Linked DNA regions of Homo sapiens. The protein of the gene in region 3 purifies or fractionates together with the protein of the main gene of each other region. This does not show direct contact. Each region holds a gene or a part of one and is shown on either strand. Other genes may lie near its edges.

Evidence for each region. The genes of interacting proteins can lie anywhere in the genome.
Region 1: the proteins of OTUD5 (region 3) and ZGPAT purify together in Homo sapiens (affinity purification with mass spectrometry; 3 studies listed by BioGRID, with this or other methods). This does not show direct contact.
Region 2: the proteins of OTUD5 (region 3) and DNAJA1 purify together in Homo sapiens (affinity purification with mass spectrometry, with the first as the bait; 3 studies listed by BioGRID). This does not show direct contact.

Annotation. Positions count from the first base shown.
Region 1 is NC_000020.11:63,711,005-63,718,038, reverse strand, and holds part of ZGPAT (zinc finger CCCH-type with G patch domain-containing protein), read right to left. Parts: intron 1-7,034. UniProt on the Homo sapiens protein: Transcription repressor that specifically binds the 5'-GGAG[GA]A[GA]A-3' consensus sequence. Represses transcription by recruiting the chromatin multiprotein complex NuRD to target promoters.
Region 2 is NC_000009.12:33,035,239-33,040,407, forward strand, and holds the end of DNAJA1 (dnaJ homolog subfamily A member 1), read left to right. Parts: intron 1-1,335; coding exon 1,336-1,451; intron 1,452-1,776; coding exon 1,777-1,877; intron 1,878-3,446; coding exon 3,447-3,665; 3' UTR 3,666-4,669; downstream 4,670-5,169.
Region 3 is NC_000023.11:48,947,576-48,954,609, reverse strand, and holds part of OTUD5 (OTU domain-containing protein 5), read left to right. Parts: intron 1-7,034. UniProt on the Homo sapiens protein: Deubiquitinating enzyme that functions as a negative regulator of the innate immune system. Has peptidase activity towards 'Lys-48'- and 'Lys-63'-linked polyubiquitin chains. Can also cleave 'Lys-11'-linked ubiquitin chains (in vitro).

The sequences.
Region 1 (7,034 bases), on a different chromosome or scaffold from region 3:
GGAGTTTTGCTTTTGTTACCCAGGCTGGAGTGCAATGGTGTGATCCTGGCTCACTGCAACCTCTGCCTCCCAGGTTCAAGCGATTCTCCTGCCTCAGCCTCCTGAGTAGCTGGGATTACAGGCACCTGCCACCACGCCCAGCTAATTTTTGTATTTTTAGTAGAGATGGGGTTTCTCCCTGTCGGCCAGGCTGGTCTCGAACTCCTGACCTTAGGTGATCCACCCACCTTGGCCTCCCAAAGTGCTGGGATTACAGGTGTGAGCCACTGTGCCTGGCCTCTGCAAAAACTTATAAAAGAAATTAGTTAGGTGCAGTGGTGTACACCTGTAGTCCCAGCTACTTGGGAGGCTGAGGCAGGAGGACTGATTGAGTCCAGGAGCTCAAGGCTACAGAGCTATGATCGCATCGCTGCTCTCCAAACGGCAACAGAGTGAGACTGTGTCTCAAACAACAAAACAACAACAAAAAACAATCTTATGGAATGCAGTGAAAGCAGTGTTTAGAGGGAAATCTGTAGCTGTAAATGCTTACATTCAAAAAGAAACACCTTGGCCGGGAAACGTCTACTCAGGAGGCTGAGGCAGGAGAATCGCCTGGGCGGCGGAGGCTGCAGTGAGCTGAGATCATGCCACTGCACTCCAGTCTGGGTGACAGAGGGAGACTCCATCTCAACAGCAACCAAAAAAAAAAAAAAAAAAAAAAAAAGAAAAGAAAAAAGAGATCTCAAATCAATAACTTAACTGTATACCTTGAAAAATTAGGGGAAAAAAAGAGCAAATTAAACCCAAACCAGCAGAAAAAAGGAAACAAAGGTTAAAATGGAAATAAATGAAACAGAATGGGAAAACAATAGAGATCAGCAACAAAAAAGATCAACAAAATTGACAAACCTTTAGCGAAAATGACCAAGAAGAAAAGACAGGCCATGCGTGGTGGCTCATGCCTGTAATCCTAGCACTTTGGGAGGCCAAGGCTGGTGGATAACCTGAGGTCAGGATTTCAAGACCAGCCTGGCCGACAGGGAGAAACCCCATCTCTACTAAAAATACAAAAACTGGCTGGGCATGGTGGCTCATGCCTATAATCCCAGCACTTTGGGAGGCCAAGGTGGGCGGATCACCTCAGGTAGGGAGTCCAAGACCAGCCTGGCCAACATGGTGAAATCCCATCTCTACTAAAAATATAAAAATCAGCCAGGCGTGGTGGTGCACGCCTATAGTTCCAGCTACTCAGGAGGCTGAGGCAGGAGAATTGCTGGAATCTGGGAGTCGGAGGTTGCAATGAGTGAGATTGCACCACTGCACTCCAGCCTGGGAGACAGAAACAGACTCCGTCTCAAAAACAAAAAAACAAAACAAAACTAGCTGGGTGTGGTGGCTCACACCTGTAATCCCAGCTACTCAGGAGGCTAAGGCAGAATTGCTTGAACCTGGGAGGCAGGGGTTGCAGTGAGCCAAGATCATGCCACTGCACTCCAGCCTGGGTGACACAGTGAGACTCCATCTCAAAAAAAAAAAAAGAGGAAGAAAAGAGATGACTCAAATTGCTAAAACCAAGAGAGAAAGTGGAGCTATTACTACTGATCTTACAGAAATAACTAGGGCTATAAAAGGATACTATGAACAATTGTATGGTAACAGATTAGATAACATAAACAAAATGGACAAATTCCTAGAAACATGCATGCAAACTATCTAAACTGACTCAAGGCTGGACGCGGTGGCTTATGTCTGTAGTCCCAGCACTTTGTGAGGCCGAGGCGGGTGGATCACCTGAGGTCAGGAGTTCGAGACCAGCCTGGCCAACATGGTGAAATGCTGTTCCTACTAAAAATACAAAAATTAGCCAGGTATGCTGGCGTGCGCCTGTAGTCCGAGATACTGGGGAGGCTGAGGTGGGAGAATCACTTGAACTCGGGAGGTAGAAGTTGCAGTGAGCCAAGATGGCACCACTGCACTCCAGCCTGGGCGACAGAGCGAGACCAAACTGACTCAAGAAGAAACAGAAAATCTGAATAGACCTATAACAAATAAAGAATCAGTAGTCAAAAAACTTCCAATGAAAGAAAAGTTCAGAAACTTTCACTACAGTTATACGTTTTAGCTTCCAAAAAGAAAAGTCAATTTCAATAAGGAAATTGAATCAATAGTCAATAAACTTCCAACAAAAGAAAAGTCCATCTCTCTCTCTCTCTCTCTCTCTCTATATATGATTGTATATATCACTTCACTGTTGAATTCTATCAAACATTTGAAGAAGAATTAACACCAATCCCTTTTTACCTCTTCCCATAATATAAAGAATACTTCCTAACTCATTCTATGAGGCCAATATTATGCTGGCATCAAAGCTATACAAAGACATGCCAAGAAAAGAAAACTACAGACCAATATCCCTTATCAATACAGATGCAAATATTCTCAACAAAACAGCAGCAAATCAAATCCAGCAATGTTATTACATGATAAGGCCTTAAACTTTTAACTGTTAAAAAGATAAGGCTCGCTGCGGTGGCTCACGCCTGTAATCCCAGCACTTCGGGAGGCCAAGGTGGGTGAATCACGAGGTCAGGAGTGCAAGACCAGCCTGTCCAACATGGCAAAACACCGTCTCAACTAAAAACACAAAAAATTAGCTGGGCATAGTGGCGGGCACCTGTAGTCCCAGCTACTCAGGAGGCTGAGGCAGGAGAATTGCTTGAACCCGGGAGATGGAGGTTGCAGTGAGCCGAGATCGCGCCACTCACTCCAGCCCGGCGACAGAGTGAGACTCTGTCTCAAAAAAAAAAAAAAAGAAAAAGAAAAAAGATAGGGCCAAGTGGCTCATGCCTATAATCCCAGCGCTTTCGGAGGCTGAGGCAGGAGGATCACTTTAGCCCAGGAGTTTGAGACCAGCTTGGGCAACAGAGTGAAATCTCATCTCTACAAAAATAATAATAATAAAGAGATAATACGCCATGAATATGCGTGCTTTATCTGAGGAATTCAAGGATGGTTCAACATACGAAAATCAATATACCACATTAACAAAATGAAAGGAAAAAAACCACACATGATCATCTAAAGGAAAAAAGCATTTGAAAAATCCCACACAGCTGGGTGCAGTGCAGTGACTCACCCCTGTAATCTCAGCACTTTGGGAGGCTGAGGCAGGATTGCTTGAGCCCTGGAGTTTAAGACCAGCCTGGGCAGCAAAGCAGGACCCTACCTCTACAGAAAAATTAAAAAATTAGCTGGGCATGGTGGCTCATGCCTGTAGTCTCACCTACTCAGGAGGATGAAGTAGGAGGATCCCCTGAGCCCAGGAATTCGAGGTTGCAGTGAGCCATGATCATGCCACTGCCCTCCAGCCTGGGTGACAGAACAAGACCCTATCTTTAAAAAAAAAATCAACACCCTTTCATGATAAAAAACACTCAACACACTATGAATATAAGAGAATTTCCTCAACTCGATAAAGGGAATCTACAGAAAACCTACAAGTAACATCATATTCAACAGTGAAAGACTAAAAGTTTTCCACCTAATATCAGGAACAAAAAAGTTTTCCACCTAAGATCAGGAACAAGATAAAGATGTTTGTTCTAGCCACTTTTTTTTTTTTTTTTTTTAAAGACAGGGTTCTTGCTCTGTCGTCCAGGCTGGAGTGGAGTGGCATGATCTTGGCTCACTGCAACCTCCGCCCCCCAGGTTCAAGCAATTCTCATGTCTCACCCTCTCAAGTAGCTGGGACTACAGGTGCACATCACCTCACCCAGCTAATTTTTGTATTTTTAGTAGAGATGGGGTTTCGCCGTGTTGGCCAGGCTGGTCTCAAACTGCTGATCTCAAGTGATCTGCCCACTTCCACCTCCCAAAGTGCTGGGAACACAGGTGTGAGCCACCACCCCCGGCCCGCTCTAGTCACTTTTATTCAACATTGTACTTGAAGTTCTAGCTAAGGCAGTTAAGCAAGAAAAAGAAATAAATGCCATGCAAACTAGAAACAAAGACTACAATTATCTCTATTCACATATATATTAATTGTATATATTGAATATATATGATTGTATATATCGAAAATCCTAAATAGTGCATAAAAAATCCTATTAGCACTAATAAACCAATTCAGCAATCAATACAGGATTAACATAAAAAAATCCACTGTATTTCTTTTTTTTTTTTTTTGAGATGAAGTCTCACTCTTGTTCCCCAAGCTGGAGTGCAATGGCGCGATCTCAGCTCACTGCAACCTCCGCCTCCCAGGTTCAAGCAATTCTCTTGCCTCAGCCTCCTGAGTAGATGGGATTACAGGCACCTGCCACCATGCCAGACTAATTTTTGTATTTTTAATAGAGGCTGGATTTCACCATGTTGGCCAGGCTGGTCTCGAACTCCTGACCACAGGTGATCCACCCGCCTTGGCCTCCCAAAGTGCTGGGATTACAGGCGTGAGCCACGGTGCCCAGCTTGTATTTCTATATACTAGCAACAAACAGCCTGAAAATGTAACTAAGGAAAACAACTCCAGCCGGGCACAGTGGCTCACATCTGTAATCCCAGCACTTTGGGAGGCCGAGGCAGGCAGATCACCTGAGGTCAAGAGTTCGAGACCATCCTGGCTACATGGTGAAACCCCATCTCTACTAAAAATACAAAAAATTAGCTGGGCGTGGTGGCAGGCACCTGTATTCCCAGCGACTCAGGAGGCTGAGGCAGAAGAATGGTGTGAACCCGGGAGGTGGAGCTTGCAGTGAGCCAAGATTGGGCCACTTCACTCCAGCCTGGGCAACAGAGCAAGACTCCATCTCAAAAAAAAAAATTAGCTGGGTGTGGTGGCAGGCACCTGTGATCCCAGCTACTTGGGAGGCTGAGCAGAAGAATTGCTTGAACCCGGGAGGCAGAGGTTGCAGTGAGCCAAGATTGTGCCATTGCACTCCAGCCTGGGTGACAGAGCAAGACTCTGTCTCAAAAAAAAAAGGAAAAGAAAAACAATTCCTTAGAGAAGCATCAAAAATAATACTTATTTAACCAAGAATGTGCAAGACTTGAACAGTACAAAATACTGTTGAAAGAAATTAAAGACGTAAATAAATGGACAGATCCTTCATTCATGAATTGGAAGACTTAATACTGTTTTTTTCTTCTGTTATTGTTGTTGTTTAAGATGGAGTCTCCCTCTGTTACCCAGGCTGGAGTGCAGTGGCATGATCTCAGCTCACTGCAACCTCCTCCTCCCAGGTTCAAGCGATTCTCCTGCCTCACCCTCTCGTGTAGCTGGGATTACAGGTGTGCACCACCTCCGACTAATTTGTTTTTTATTTTTAGTAGAGACGGGGTTTCACCACGTTGGCCAGGCTGGTCTTGAACTCCTGACCTCAAGTGATATGCCCGCCTCAGCCTCCCAAAGTACTGGGATTACAGGCGTCAGCCACCACACCCAGCCAGAAGGCTTAATATTGTAAAGATGACAATGTGCCCCAAACAGATCTACACATTCTATGCAATCCATATCAAAATTCAAACTGTCTTTTATGCAGAATTGGACAAGCCGATCCTAAAATTCATATGAAATTGCAAAGGATCCAGAAACAAAACAAACTTGAAAAAGAGGAGCAAATGGTGAATAACTACCACTTCCTGAGTTTAAAACTTATCACAAAGCTATAATAATCAGAACAGTGTGGTACTGGCACATATACACCAATGGAACAGGAGAGAGAGCTCAGAAATAAACCCTTACATATATTGCCAATTGATTTTGGACAAAAGTGCCAAGACCATTCAGTGGAGAAAAAGCAGTCTTTTAAACAAATGGTGCTGGGAAAACTGGAAATCCACATGCAAAAGAATAAAGTGGACCCTCACCTAATAACATATACAAAAATTAACTCAAAATGGATCAAAGACCTAAATTTAACAGCTAAAACTACAGAACTCTTAGAAGAAAACATAGGTGAAAATCCTCATAACTATGGATGAGGTGGTTTCTTAAACCTGATGACAAAAACATAGGCAATAAAGAAACAATAAATTGCACTGCATCAAAATTTAAAATGTTTGTGCATCAAAGGACACTATATCAAGTGAAAAGACAACCCAAACAATGGGAGCAAATATCTGCAAACTATATACTTCATAAGGGATGATATCCAGAATATATAAAGAAATCCTGGGCCGGGTGTGGTGGCTCATGCCTGTAATCCCAGCACTTTGGGAAACCAAGGCGGGATCACCTGAGGTCAAGAGTTCGAGACCAGCCTGGCCAACATGGTGAAACCCTGCCTCTACTAAAAATATAAAAATTAGCTGGGCACCACGTGGTGACAGGCGCCTGTAATCCCAGCTACTTGGGAGGCTGAGGCAGGAGAATCCCTTGAACCCAGGAGGTGGAGGTCATGCCATTGTACTCTAGCCTGGGCAACAACAGTGAAACTCCATCTTAAAAAAAAAAAAAAGGTCCAACGCAAATCCAAGAGAACTTATCAGTCCTGAATGGTGGCAAGGTGGACGTCTGTAAGATGCTCCGGAAGCTTTCAGATCAGGCCTGATGCCGACATGGCAAGCAGCACTGGGTGGAGCAGGGGACGGAACGAGGGCTGGGGGCAACCGGAGCCCTCTGAGCCTTGAAGCCCTGGACCACTCAGTTCTTCTACTCCTGTTTCCTCCTCTGTCAGATGGTGTGACTGCAGGGCCTACCTACAGGGCTGTTGCACAGATGAATGAAAGTATATGAAACCCTTGGAGCAGTGCCTGGCCCAGAGGGAGCACCACAGGGATGTGTCAGATCTCTCATCAAAGGGATCAGGAATTCGAGACCTGGGTAATATGGTGAAATCCCGTCTCTACAAAAAATACAAAAATTAGCTGGGCGTGGCAGTGCACACTTGTAGTATCAGCTATTAGGGAGGCTGAGGTGGGAGGATGGCTTGGGCCAGGGAGGCGGAGATTGCAGTGAGCCGAGATTGTGCCACTGCACTCCAGCCTGGGTGACAGAGCAGCAAGACGCTGTTTCAAAAAAAAAAAAAAAAGGAAGACATTCAAAGAACTAGAAC
Region 2 (5,169 bases), on a different chromosome or scaffold from region 3:
TAGCCAGGCATGGTGGCAGGCCCTGAGGCAGGAGAATCACTTGAACACAGGAGGCAGAGGTCGCGGTGAGTTGAGATGGCGCCATTGCACTCCAGCCTGGGCAAAAAGAGCAAAACTTGGTCTCAAAAAAAAAGACTAATATTTTACAAATGTCTGAAGATAATGGGAAATGTTGTCAAGCTCAGGCTTTTGATGCTGTCATTTGAGAAGGGTATTAAAGATGTTTTATTTATTTATTTATTTTTTTTGAGATGCAGTTTCGCTCAACAGGCCCAGGCTGGATTGCGATGGTGAGATCTTGGCTCACTGCAACCTCCAACTCCCAGGTTCAAGCAATTCTCTCACCTCAGCCTCCCGAGTAGCTGGGATTACAGGCGCCCACCACCACGCCCAGCTGATTTTTGTATTTTTAGTAGAGACGGGTTTCACCATGTTGGCCAGGCTGGTATCGAACTCCTGACCTTAGGCAATCCACCTGCCTCGGCCTCCCAAAGTGCTGGGATTACAGGCATGAGCCACCGCGCCCAGCCTAAAGATGTTTTATTAATGTGGGTTGGAAAAGGAAAGTCTAAGCATGAGAAGGAGGAAGTGGGCTGTTAACGTTAAATATGAAAGGCTGTGTTCACTCACAATATGCCAGGAAATATTATTTCAGGTTCATCAATGAGGAAATTGTTAGAGTCCCTTTAAATTGGACATATCCTCATTGTTTAATTTCATAGAGCCTAAATTATCTAGGACCCTGCCCAGGCTAGAGTGCAGTGGCACGATCTCAACTCACTGCAATCTCTGCCTCCAGATTCAAGTGATTCTCCTGCCTCAGCCTCCCGAGTAGCTGGAACTACAGGTGCGCGCCACCATGCCTGGCTGATTTTTTGTATTTTTAGTAGAGATGGGGTTTCACCATGTTGGCCAGGCTGGTCTTGAACTTCAGACCTTAGGTGATCCACCCTCCTCAGCCTCCCAAACTGCTGGAATTACAGATGCGAACCACAGTGCCTGGCCTAACCCTCACTCTTGTGAGTTGTTTTTTTTTTTTCCCCTCTGAGAAACCAGATTTAAAACTAGGTAATGAAACAGTTCACTGATGGTAAATGGTAAAGGCTGCCTAGAGTGTGTGGAATGACTTTGAATCCTTAACTAGGAAACGGGGCTGGCAGGTTGCACATGTTTGCTCTTCCCAGATCTCTGCTCTGCTTGATTTTTACAATGGGGGAAGAAAAGGGTGTCTTTGTAAAAGACCCTTTGCTTTTATTAAACAAAAAAACAGCCTGCTTTGGTACATCTACTGATTCGTGATTTGAAAAATATAAATATGTGTCATATTTTATGCAGACGAGGAGAAGACCTTTTCATGTGTATGGACATACAGCTCGTTGAAGCACTGTGTGGCTTCCAGAAGCCAATATCTACTCTTGACAACCGAACCATCGTCATCACCTCTCATCCAGGTATGGGAACTAGGCAAGCTTAAACTTCTCTTTTCTATTCTAGTATTTTCCTTGTCTCCTGTTAACAAAGTGTAGTATAGGCACTGAGGGAAACCCATTGTTTTTCTTTCTCGGTTACATATCCTTCTCTGGGCTTAGATGAAGTTATAAGGTCTTGGCTCTCTTGTCAGCCCTTGGAAAACCCATAAGTGAAAGGTAACAGGATTGCTTTGCCACGTAAGTTTTACTCCTGCCAATGAGCTAGGACAGTGCTCTGTTCTTTATATTCCCTGCCTCATAAAAATGTGACCATACTTAAGGAAGAACTTGGCTTCAATGTTTTTAGGTCAGATTGTCAAGCATGGAGATATCAAGTGTGTACTAAATGAAGGCATGCCAATTTATCGTAGACCATATGAAAAGGGTCGCCTAATCATCGAATTTAAGGTAAGCTGTAATGTACTTTAAGAATACTTGAGAACAATTGGCTTACTAAAATCTGATAAAAAAGTAAAATTTCAGCCAGGTGCAAGTAGCTCATGCCTGTAATCCCCGCATTTTGAGAGGCTGAGGCAGGAGGATCCCTTGAGCCCTGGAGTTTTGAGAACAGCCTGGGCAACATAGTGAAACCCTGTCTCTTTAAAAAAACAAAAAAAAAAAAAAATTAAAATTTCTGAATGCCTCAGAACCTGAAACTTACATTTTTCCACAGCAAGAAATATATGGATCTGGCCACGTGCCACTGGCACACACCTATAATCCCAGTGCTTTGGGAGGCCAAGACAGGTGGATTGCTTGAGCTCAGGAGTTAAAGGCCAGCCTGGGCAACATGGCAAAACCCCATCTCTACAAAAAGTACAAAAATTAGCCAGGCATGGTGGCACACACCTGTAGTCCCAGCTACTCGGGAGGCTGAGGTGGGAGGATTGCTTGAGCCTAGGTGGTCAAGGCTGCAGTGAATCAAGATCGTGTCACTGTACTTCAACCTGGGTGACAGAATGAGACCCTGTCTCAAAAAAAGAAAAAAGAAAATTTACCTAATAACTACTTCTGTCATGTTGAGCATTCTTTGTTAACAAGTTGAGGATGGGGTTTTTTGCATCATTAATTGGATATTTAAAGATAGGTTGTGGGAAGGGTGTGTGGGACAAGTGGGTATTTTACTAATGAAAGGTTGTAACTGGCATCTTAAAGTTGAGAGGTGCTTTATAATAATTGCAGATTTCTTGGCAAAATAGTGTAATGCTTGATTTGTTAATAGGTATAAAGCAATCCAGTCATTTTCCTGAGTCTTAAATTGGCCTGTCACCATAAAAATATTAATTAAAACTTTTTTTTTTTTTTTTCCTTTTTGAGACGGGAGTCTTGTTCTGTCACCCAAGGTGGAGTGCAGTGGTGCGATCCTGGATCACTGTAACCTCCACCTCCTGGGTTCAAGCAGTTCTCCTGCCTCAGCCTCCTGAGTAGCTGGGAATACAGGTGCCCGCCACCACGCTGGGCTTTTTAGTAGAGATGGGGTTTCACCATATTGGCCAGGCTGGTCTCAAACTCTTGACCTCAGGTGATCTGCCCATCTCAGCTTCCCAAAGTGTTGGGATTTGTAATCCCAATTGTATGAGCCACCGCGCCTGGCCTAAAAACATCTTTGGTAAGGAAGAACTACCCTTTTGAGAGTAAGAATAGCTTTGTTTAAATATGTCGTAAGAAGGGTTAGGCTGTTGCAGGATGGGTTTTGGTATTAAAAAGTCAGTTTGCTGGATAGAACAATGGTTGTTAAAGTGCAGTTTTATTTAATACAATCATTTTTAATAAAGCCTGACTTCTGGTCATAATCCTTGAACTCTAGTTCAGAGTGTGCTATGCACTGTGCCTTTTTAGAGCCTGTTCTAACCTGAGATTGGCAGATTCACCTAAATATTACGTGTTTACATGTGTTTTTCTGGGGAAAATGGGTCCATGATACTCTAAGGGAGCTAATGATGAAATCAGATTGAACAGTGAAAGTTTCTTTTGAAGGTAAACTTTCCTGAGAATGGCTTTCTCTCTCCTGATAAACTGTCTTTGCTGGAAAAACTCCTACCCGAGAGGAAGGAAGTGGAAGAGACTGATGAGATGGACCAAGTAGAACTGGTGGACTTTGATCCAAATCAGGAAAGACGGCGCCACTACAATGGAGAAGCATATGAGGATGATGAACATCATCCCAGAGGTGGTGTTCAGTGTCAGACCTCTTAATGGGCCAGTGAATAACACTCACTGCTGGCATTTAATGTGCAGTAGTGAATGAGTGAAGGACTGTAATCATAATATGCTCACTACTTGCTCTTGTTTTTGTTTTAATAAACTATAGTAGTGTTTTAAAAAGTTAAATGAAGAATAAACGCAAATATAAAAGCTCTGATTTTGCCCTGTATGTATGATGACTTCAGTGTGCAAGATGAAGTTTAATACCTGTAAAAACTACAAAGAAGTTCCCCTAGCATTTCTAGGCCAAACCTTGTAATTGACTTCAGCTATGTACGTGGACAAGCTTAGACTGAAATGCTAGGTATATGTATTGGCTTCAGTGTATGACCCTTCATTGTTAAGCTATGAAAGTAAAACTCTGTATTTAACTGGCAATGAGGAAAAAAAAATTTTGTAGAGAAGTGTTGGTCTGTATAGTTCTTTATATTAAGTGGGATTCATTGTAATGCCTCTGCATTTATTCTGTTGCCTCAGCTGTTACTTGAAGATGGCGTAATATATAATTTATCCTGTGGTATCAGTGATAAAAATGATACCTTTCTGTAGGAGGGGTTTATCATAATATGCTGCTTCTTGAAGGCTTGCACTTCCAGAATTGTGTTTCCTTCTGCTGTGCCATTCATATATATATACATATATATATATAATCTTGACCAGTCCTGGTCATTTGCTCCCCTCCTTGTCTGTGGACCATGATAAGCCCAAGTAGTGACTTCAGAGCTGGGTAACAGAAATTAAAGTGAAAAGACCTTTACGTGGAGAATTTGCATGCGTAATATAGGAAGGTGTTCTTTAGGTATGTTACAGGATTACTTTAAACCATTTGACTTTCGCTCCAAAGTTATGTTGGTAGTATAGCAAATTATGATGAATAGCTTTAATTGTATGTTTAAAAGTCTCATATGTTCACATGCTTAAATCTGGGTATCAGAATTTAAGCAATTCTTGAAATGTATTGTCTCCTTAATATACTAATTACAAAGCATCTCCAATGTGTGTCACTACAGGCTTTTTTTTCCCAGATCATCAAATTTTGGCTTTTAACTAAGATACATAGCTTTATTTTAGCTAGTCTGAATGAGTGATACAAAAATACTATTGAACTATAGTTAAATAATATTAAATAGGATGGAGAGTAAAAGTGGAGGACTGGGTAATGAGCCAAGAAGAAGGGGACTTAGAAAACTGCAAACATTGGAGTGAGCATGAGAGAACAAGTTCTCATAAAGAATACAAGTTTAAAAAGGAGAAAAACTTTAAAAAATAAGGTTCCCAAACCATCAGTGTTTGTCAACTTCCTTTTAGTCTGTGCCAGCCACCCACAGCTACCCTAAAGTTGGAGATGTGAAGCAGATGTTCAGGAAAGTATAATTGATCGGTGTTCAAAAAAGTGCTTTGTGACAGATTTCACTTTTCACTGGGTTTATGTACAAATTCTAAAAATCTCTGAACCTGTATTTTAATGCATTTAAGAGCATTGTTTAGGCCAGGC
Region 3 (7,034 bases):
TCTTGAGCTCCTTGTTCTTGGTCCCTTCCTCCCATCATTAATTCTGGCACGATAAGCCATTTGTACTCAAGGGTCAGGACCAGTTATTTCTTCTCTCTCTGGTTGGGTAGTTTCTTTCCTCCTCTAGAAGCAGGGAGCCATACATCACTGGTCCTAGGGACAGAGGAAAAACATCCTATGCAGCCATGATAATTCAAAAACACCTCCTTACTCCCCTCCCTTGCGATACATCCCTGGTCCCAGGGACAGAGAGAAAGAACATCCTATGCTGCCATGGTAACTCAAAAACACTTCCTTATGCCCCTTGCAGTCCCTCCCTTATACTTGTCCCCATAAGAACATAAGAGTAAGCCGGGCATAGTGGCGCATGCCTGTAGTCCCAGCTACTCGGGAGGCTGAGGCGGGAGGATCACTTGAGCCCTGGAGTTCAAGACCTGCTTGGCAACATAGCGAGACCTCATCTTTACTAATAAAAAAAAAAGAATATGAAAATCAAGTTTTGTGGGTTCATGAAACCTGCCCTTCCCAATGACAGGAGAGGCTTTCTGTCCCCACACTTCTTAGGACAAAGAAGGTGATCCTCTTCTCCCTGCCTCACCTGGTCCAACTTGAGAGCTTTTGGGGATGAGAAGAGGGAAGATTCCTCCTGCCACCCCAGTCTTGGTCCTAAACTGTCACTAGGGGTGGTTGTAGCCTGGAGGTCAGTTGGATCCCTTGGGAAGAGAGGCGTCGTTGAGGGGGAGTCTAGATGGCGATTCTGGGGTTCTGACTACTTGGGCTTCCTCTTTGTCCTGATTCTCTTGTATCCCTACTTCCTTTAGGAGTCTTTTTGGCACTCTGGGGTCCAGGTGCTGGGTGGGTGGTGATGTCAGGGGTTCCCAGGCATGGCTGCCTTGCTGAGAGTCTGCTCTATGAAAAGGTTGGCCTGTAAGCATCCTGAGTTTGGAGACCCCACAGAGCTCTTTGAGAAGGGGCATGTGAACTGAGGTGGTGGAAAAAGCTGGGTGTGGCACGGTAGTTGGTGCCTGGGTTCCAACTCTGGGTCTTTCAAGGCTTTGCTGGATGAACCAGGGTAGGTTCTACCTATGCTCTCTGGGCCTCAGTTTCCTCACTGGCCAGGCAAAATGCTGGTGAGGTGTTGTTTAGCTTTGGGATTTTAGGGAACTCAGTCCAAAGTTCTCTGGACCTGGAGGTGGCAAAGAATGGTGGATGTCTTTTGAGGAGGAACTGGGTTTCTCCCCTCTCTTCCTGGCTCCTCTGTTCCCTCTCAGCCATCCAAGCTTGGTGGGCAGGACAAGCAGCCTGTTTTGTGTGAGGCTCAGGGTTGATGAACAGCCATTTTTTGTGGGCAGCCATGTTGTAATGAACAAGCTCGATGGGATTTCCTGTCAGGAGGCCTGTTGGATAGTGGTGTAGAGAGGTAGAGTTGTGTGTGGAGTTTGGGCTTTGGAGCAAGGCAAGCTTTGAGCCATCATCCCTCAATTCTCTCATCACCTCCAGACCTCAGCATCTCCTCCTTACCTGCTTTATAGCTTTAGGCAAACTACTTGCCCCCTCAGCTGCCCATTTTGCAAAAGTTTGTCCATGCCCAGGTGTGTCTGACCTTGCACACCTTGGACCTTGGCCGGTTCTTCCTCTTGCCCAGAATGGGCAGTTTGCCCCAGGGTCATCTTGGTTCTTCCTAGGAGCCTTTGTCCACTCCTAGTAACCTATCTTTGATAGCAAAGGCCCTTCATTTGGCATCTAGGAACCTGCTGATTTCTTGGGCTCTTCTTACCCCAACTGGAATTGGGTAGCTAGCTGGTGGGGAAGCAGGAAGGGGTCTCTGCCCAGGCAACGTGGATTTGAGTCCTGTTTCTGCAGTAAGCTTTTCTGTGGTCTTCAGGCAGTTCTCTTTTCTGGTTCTTGGTTTCTCCCTCCATGAAATGGGTAGTGTTGAGGAGGGAGGTTGGACTCATTGCTCTGAAGCAAGTTATAGTCTCCTCCCTGCTCCCACTCCCCTCACCCTTCATGAAAGTTTTAAGTGGGACCCCTTGGCCTTTGGGGATTGTGCTAGGACATTTCAAGCAGTGTTCAGCGTCCTTGGCTGGTGCTGAGCCCTTGGGTGTGTTTCTTTTAACAACTTTAATGAGATGTAATTCATGTACCATACTATTCACCTCTTTGAAGTGTACAGTTCAGTGGCTTTTAGTATATTCACAGATTTGTGCGTCCATCACATCACTACAGTCCATTTTAGAACATTTTCATCACCTTAAAGAGAAATCCAGCACTCTTTAGCTATGATCCCCCAATTTCCTCATCCCTTTCCAGCCTCTGGCAACCACTAATCTACTTTCTGGCTTGATTGATTTGTCTGTTCTGGATGTTTCATGTAAATGGAATAATAGAATATGCAGTTGTTTGTTACTTGGCTTTTTTCACTTAGCATAATATGTTCAAGGCTTATCCATGTTGTAGCATACATCAGTGCTTCATTCCTTTCTATTACTGAATAACAGGACCTTGGGTTTTTTTGTTTTTTGGTTTTTGTTTTTGTTTTTGTTTTTTTTTTAAGGTGGAGTCTTGCTCTGCTGCCCAGGCTGGAGTGCAGTGGCGCAATCTCAGGTCGCTGCAACCTCCGGCTTCCGGGTTCAAGTGATTCTCCTGCCTCAGCCTCCCAAGTAGCTGGGGCTACAGGCATCTGCCACCACACCCGGCTAATTTTTGTATATTTAGTAGAGATGGGGTTTCACCATGTTGGCAAAGCTGGTCTCCTGAACTCCTGACCTCAGGTGATCTGCCTGCCTTGGCCTCCCAAAGTGCTGGGATTACAGGTGTGAGTCACCGCACCCTGCCAATCTTAGAGGTTTTTAATCCCCCTGCCCTCAGTGGCCTAGCCAAATGTTGGGGCCTTGCTCTTCTCCCCTTCTGCCCTGGAGGGCTTGTGTTGGTCCTTAGAGAGTAGTGTGTCTATGTTCCTCGTTGGATGGGTTGCCTGTGTGTGTTTTTTTTTGAGATGGAGTCTCACTCTGTCCCCCAGGCTGGAGTGTAGTGGCGCGATCTTGGCTCACTGCAACCTCCACCTCCCAGGTTCACACCATTCTCCTGCCTCAGCCTCCCGAGTAGCTGGAACTACAGGTGCCTGCCACCTCGTCTGGCTAATATTTTTGTATTTTTAGTAGAGACAGGGATTCACTGTGTTAGCCAGGATGATCTCGATCTCCTGACTTCGTGATCCGCCCACCTCGGCCTCCCAAAGTGCTGGGATTACAGGCGTGAGCCACCACGCCTGGCCCCCTGTGTTTTGTCCATGGAGCCAGGCTAGTGTTCCTGGGTGCTTTGCTGGAGGGGGTGGTCTTGGCACCAGGGCTGCTGGGACAGAGCTGTGAGTCACAGAATGCTAAACACCTTTTGACCATAGGCTCTGGGAAGACATCTGTCCATGAACTGCCACTGCTGCTGCCATCTTTTGCCCCCCCACCCCACCCCCACTTCAGTGGCAGCTCATCCATCCATAGGCAGGGTCAGTAGTTTCCCAGGGTGAGAAGGGAGATTCCAGGCCCCTGCTGCCTTAATTCTAACCTCCCACCCTGGAGGATGGTAGGCAGGTGGACCTTGCAGAGCGGGATCCATGCCATATTGTCTCACACCTGTGAGGCACTAGGGAACAGACACCAAGGAGTGCTACCAAGGGGGGTGTGTTAGTTTCCTGTGGCTGTTGTGACAAATGTTACCACAGACTGGGTGGTTTAAAACAACAGAAGTTGGCCGGGTGCGGTGGCTCACCCCTGTAATCCCAGCACTTTGGGAGGCCGAGGCGGGTGGATCACGAGGTCAGGAGTTCAAGACCAGCCTGGCCAAGATAGTAAAACCCCATCTCTACTAAAAATATAAAAATTAGCTGGGTGTGGTGGTGGGTGCCTGTAATCCCAGCTACTCGGGAGGCTGAGGCAGAGAATTGCTTGAACCCAGGAGACGGATTGGAGGTTGCAGTGAGGTGGGGGTTGCAGTAAGCTGAGATTGCGCCACTGCACTCCAGCCTGGGTGACAGAGCGAGACTCCATCTCAAAAAAAAAAAAAAAAAAAAAAAGAGAGAGAGAAGTTTATTCTGTCACAATTCTGGAGGCCAGAAGTCCACAATCAGTTTCACTGCATCCAAATCAAAGTGTTGGCAGGGCCACACTCCTTCTGGAAGCTCTCAGGGAGAATTTAGACCTTCTCTAGCCTCTCGTGGCTGCCAACATTCCTTGGTTTATGACTGCATCATTCTAATCTCTGCCTCCATCTTCACCATCGCCTTCTCTGTATATGTGGTTTCCTTTTCTGTCTGTATCAAATTTCCCTCTGTCTCTCTTTTATAAGGACACTTGTGATTGCATTTAGGTCCTACCTGATACTCTAAGATAACCCCCCATCTCCAGATTTAATAATGTAAGTTAATTACATCTGCAAACACTTTTTTTCTTTTCTCTTCTCTTTTTTTTTTTTTTTTTGAGGTGGAATCTCACTCTGTCACCCAGGCGCAGTCTCGGCTCACCGCAACCTCCGCCTCCTGGGTTCAAGCTATTCTCCTGCCTCACCCTCCTGAGTAGCTGGGATTGCAGGCGCCCACCACCACACCTGGCTAATTTTTGTATTTTTAGTAGAGATGGGGTTTTGCCATGTTGGCCAGGCTGGTTTCAAACTCCTGACCTTAGTTGATCCACCCGCCTCGGCCTCCCAAAGTGCTGGGATTACAGGCATGAGCCACTGTGCCCGGGCTTTTCTTTTCTTTTCAGACAGTGCTGGCCTCTGTCACCCAGGCTGGAGTGCAGTGGCGTAATCTTGGCTCACTGCACCCTCCACTTCCTGGACTCAAGTGATCCTCCAGCCTCAGCCTCCTGAGTAGCTGGGACCACAGGTGCGAGCCACCATGCCCGGTTAATTTTTGGTGTTTATTTATTTGTTTTTGAGATGGAGTCTCGCTGTGTCACCCAGGCTGGAGTGCAGTGGTGCTATCTCGGCTCACTGCAACCTTCGCCTCCCAGGTTCCAGCGATTCTCCTGCCTCAGCCTCCTGAGTAGTTGGGATTACAGGCGCCTGCTACCATGACCAGCTAATTTTTGTATTTTTAGTAGAGATAGGGTTTCACCATGTTGGCCAGGCTGGTCTCGAACTCCTGACCTCAGGTGATCCACCCGCCTCGGCCTCCCAGAGTGCCGCGATTACAGGCGTGAATCACCGTACCTGGCCTGTATTTTTTGTAGAGATGAGATTTCACCATGTTGCCCAGGCTAGTCTTGAACTCTTGAGCTCAAAGCGATCTGCCTGCCTTAGCCTCCCAAAGTGCTGGGATTGCAGGCATGAGCCACGACGCCTGGCCCTACCTTTTTCATTATAAGGTAACATTTACAAGTTCCAGGGGGGTTAGGGTTTGATATCTTTGCGTGGCTATTAATCAGCCTACTAGAGAGGCTTTTTTCCCTCCTGGGGAAGGGAAGGGAACTCATTAAGTGGTCTCTTACTGGGCAAAGCCCTGTAATATTTGAGTCTGCCCAGCATCCCTATTATTGGGAGGCTTGGTATCCCCATTCACAGATTGGAAAACTGTGGCTCAGAGCAGTTCATCATCACATGGCTAATAATTGGTGGAGCTAGATTGGAACCTAAGTCAGTTGGGTTCCACAGCCTGCTCCAACTTCACTTGGGCCCTTAGACCACTAGGTTACAGAATCTTGCCTCAGCTCCTGGGATCCTCTGGTGTTAGGGAGCTTTACTCAGCCTTTTTGTGGAGGCTCAAAGATATGGAGGGATTTTCCCATAGGCTCAGCGATGAGTTTGCAAGGTTCACAATCTCCTCAGGCCAGGGCATTGTTGGAGCTTAAACTTATCTATGGCTGAGCTATCCCCTACCCCCCACCCCTACTAGCCCTTCCTGAGCAACATTTTCTCCCCAAAAGGAGAAAGAGAAGGGCCAGAGCCCAAACTCCTCAGGCTGCTGATGACAAAGCCAGTGGGTGGCTAGCAGTCCAGCCTCTAGATCCAAGCCTGGATGCCAGTTTGACTGCCCCAGGACCCAAACCCTGCAGTGCGAGGGGCCTATTCAGGTCTCTTTCATGTTTAGAGACAAACCAGGATATTCTGTGGATGGGCTGCAAGGTATGTCCTCCATGCTGTGGCTCGTGGGGGCCTTCCCTGTTGCCTCTACACTAGGCTTTGCTGGTATCCAAACTCCAGCTCCTTTCTCTTTCTGCCTTTGTTTTTTTGTTTTTTGTTTTGTTTTTGTTTTTGTTTTTGAGACATAGTCTTGCTCTGTTGCCCAGGCTGGCTGGGGTGCAATGGTGCCATCTCGGCTCACTGCAACCTCCACCTCCCGAGTTCAAGCGATTCTCCTGTCTCAGCCTCCCAAGTAACTGGGATTACAGGCACACGCCACCACGCCCTGCTAATTTTTTGTATTTTCAGTAGAGACAAGGCTTCGCCATGTCGGCCAGGCTGGTCTTAAACTCCTAACCTCAGATGATCCTTCCGCCTTGGCCTCCCAAAGTGCTGGGATTACAGGCGTGAGCCACCGTGTCTGGCCTCCTTTCTGCCTTTGTAAAGTGAGGGTAATGTTTCCTGCCACCTGGGCTGTGGTCAGGAAAATTAAACGAGGTCACCCTTTGCATCTGGCATGGGGCAGGTATTCAGTTAATATGAGTTCATCTTTCTTCCTGGTCCTCCCTGCTTACCTGCCTAGTACTACCCAGAACTTTAGCTCTACTGAATTCATTGCTGGGCTCCAGGCATTCCTGGTACTTCGTGGCAGAAGTGACTTCATTTCTCATCCAGTTAACAAGCATTTTTGGAGGTCTTGGTGTTTTAATCCTTTGGTCAGGTGGCACCTCCTCTCAGGTGCTAGCCTTAATGACTGTGTTTCTTTTTTTCTTTTTTTTTTTTTTCCTTGAGACAGAGTTTTGCTCTTATTGCCCAGGCTGGAGTGCAATGGTGCGATCTTGGCTCACCACAACCTCCGCCTCCCGGGTTCAAGCGATTCTCCTGCCTCAGCCTCCCGAGTAGCTGGGATTACAGGC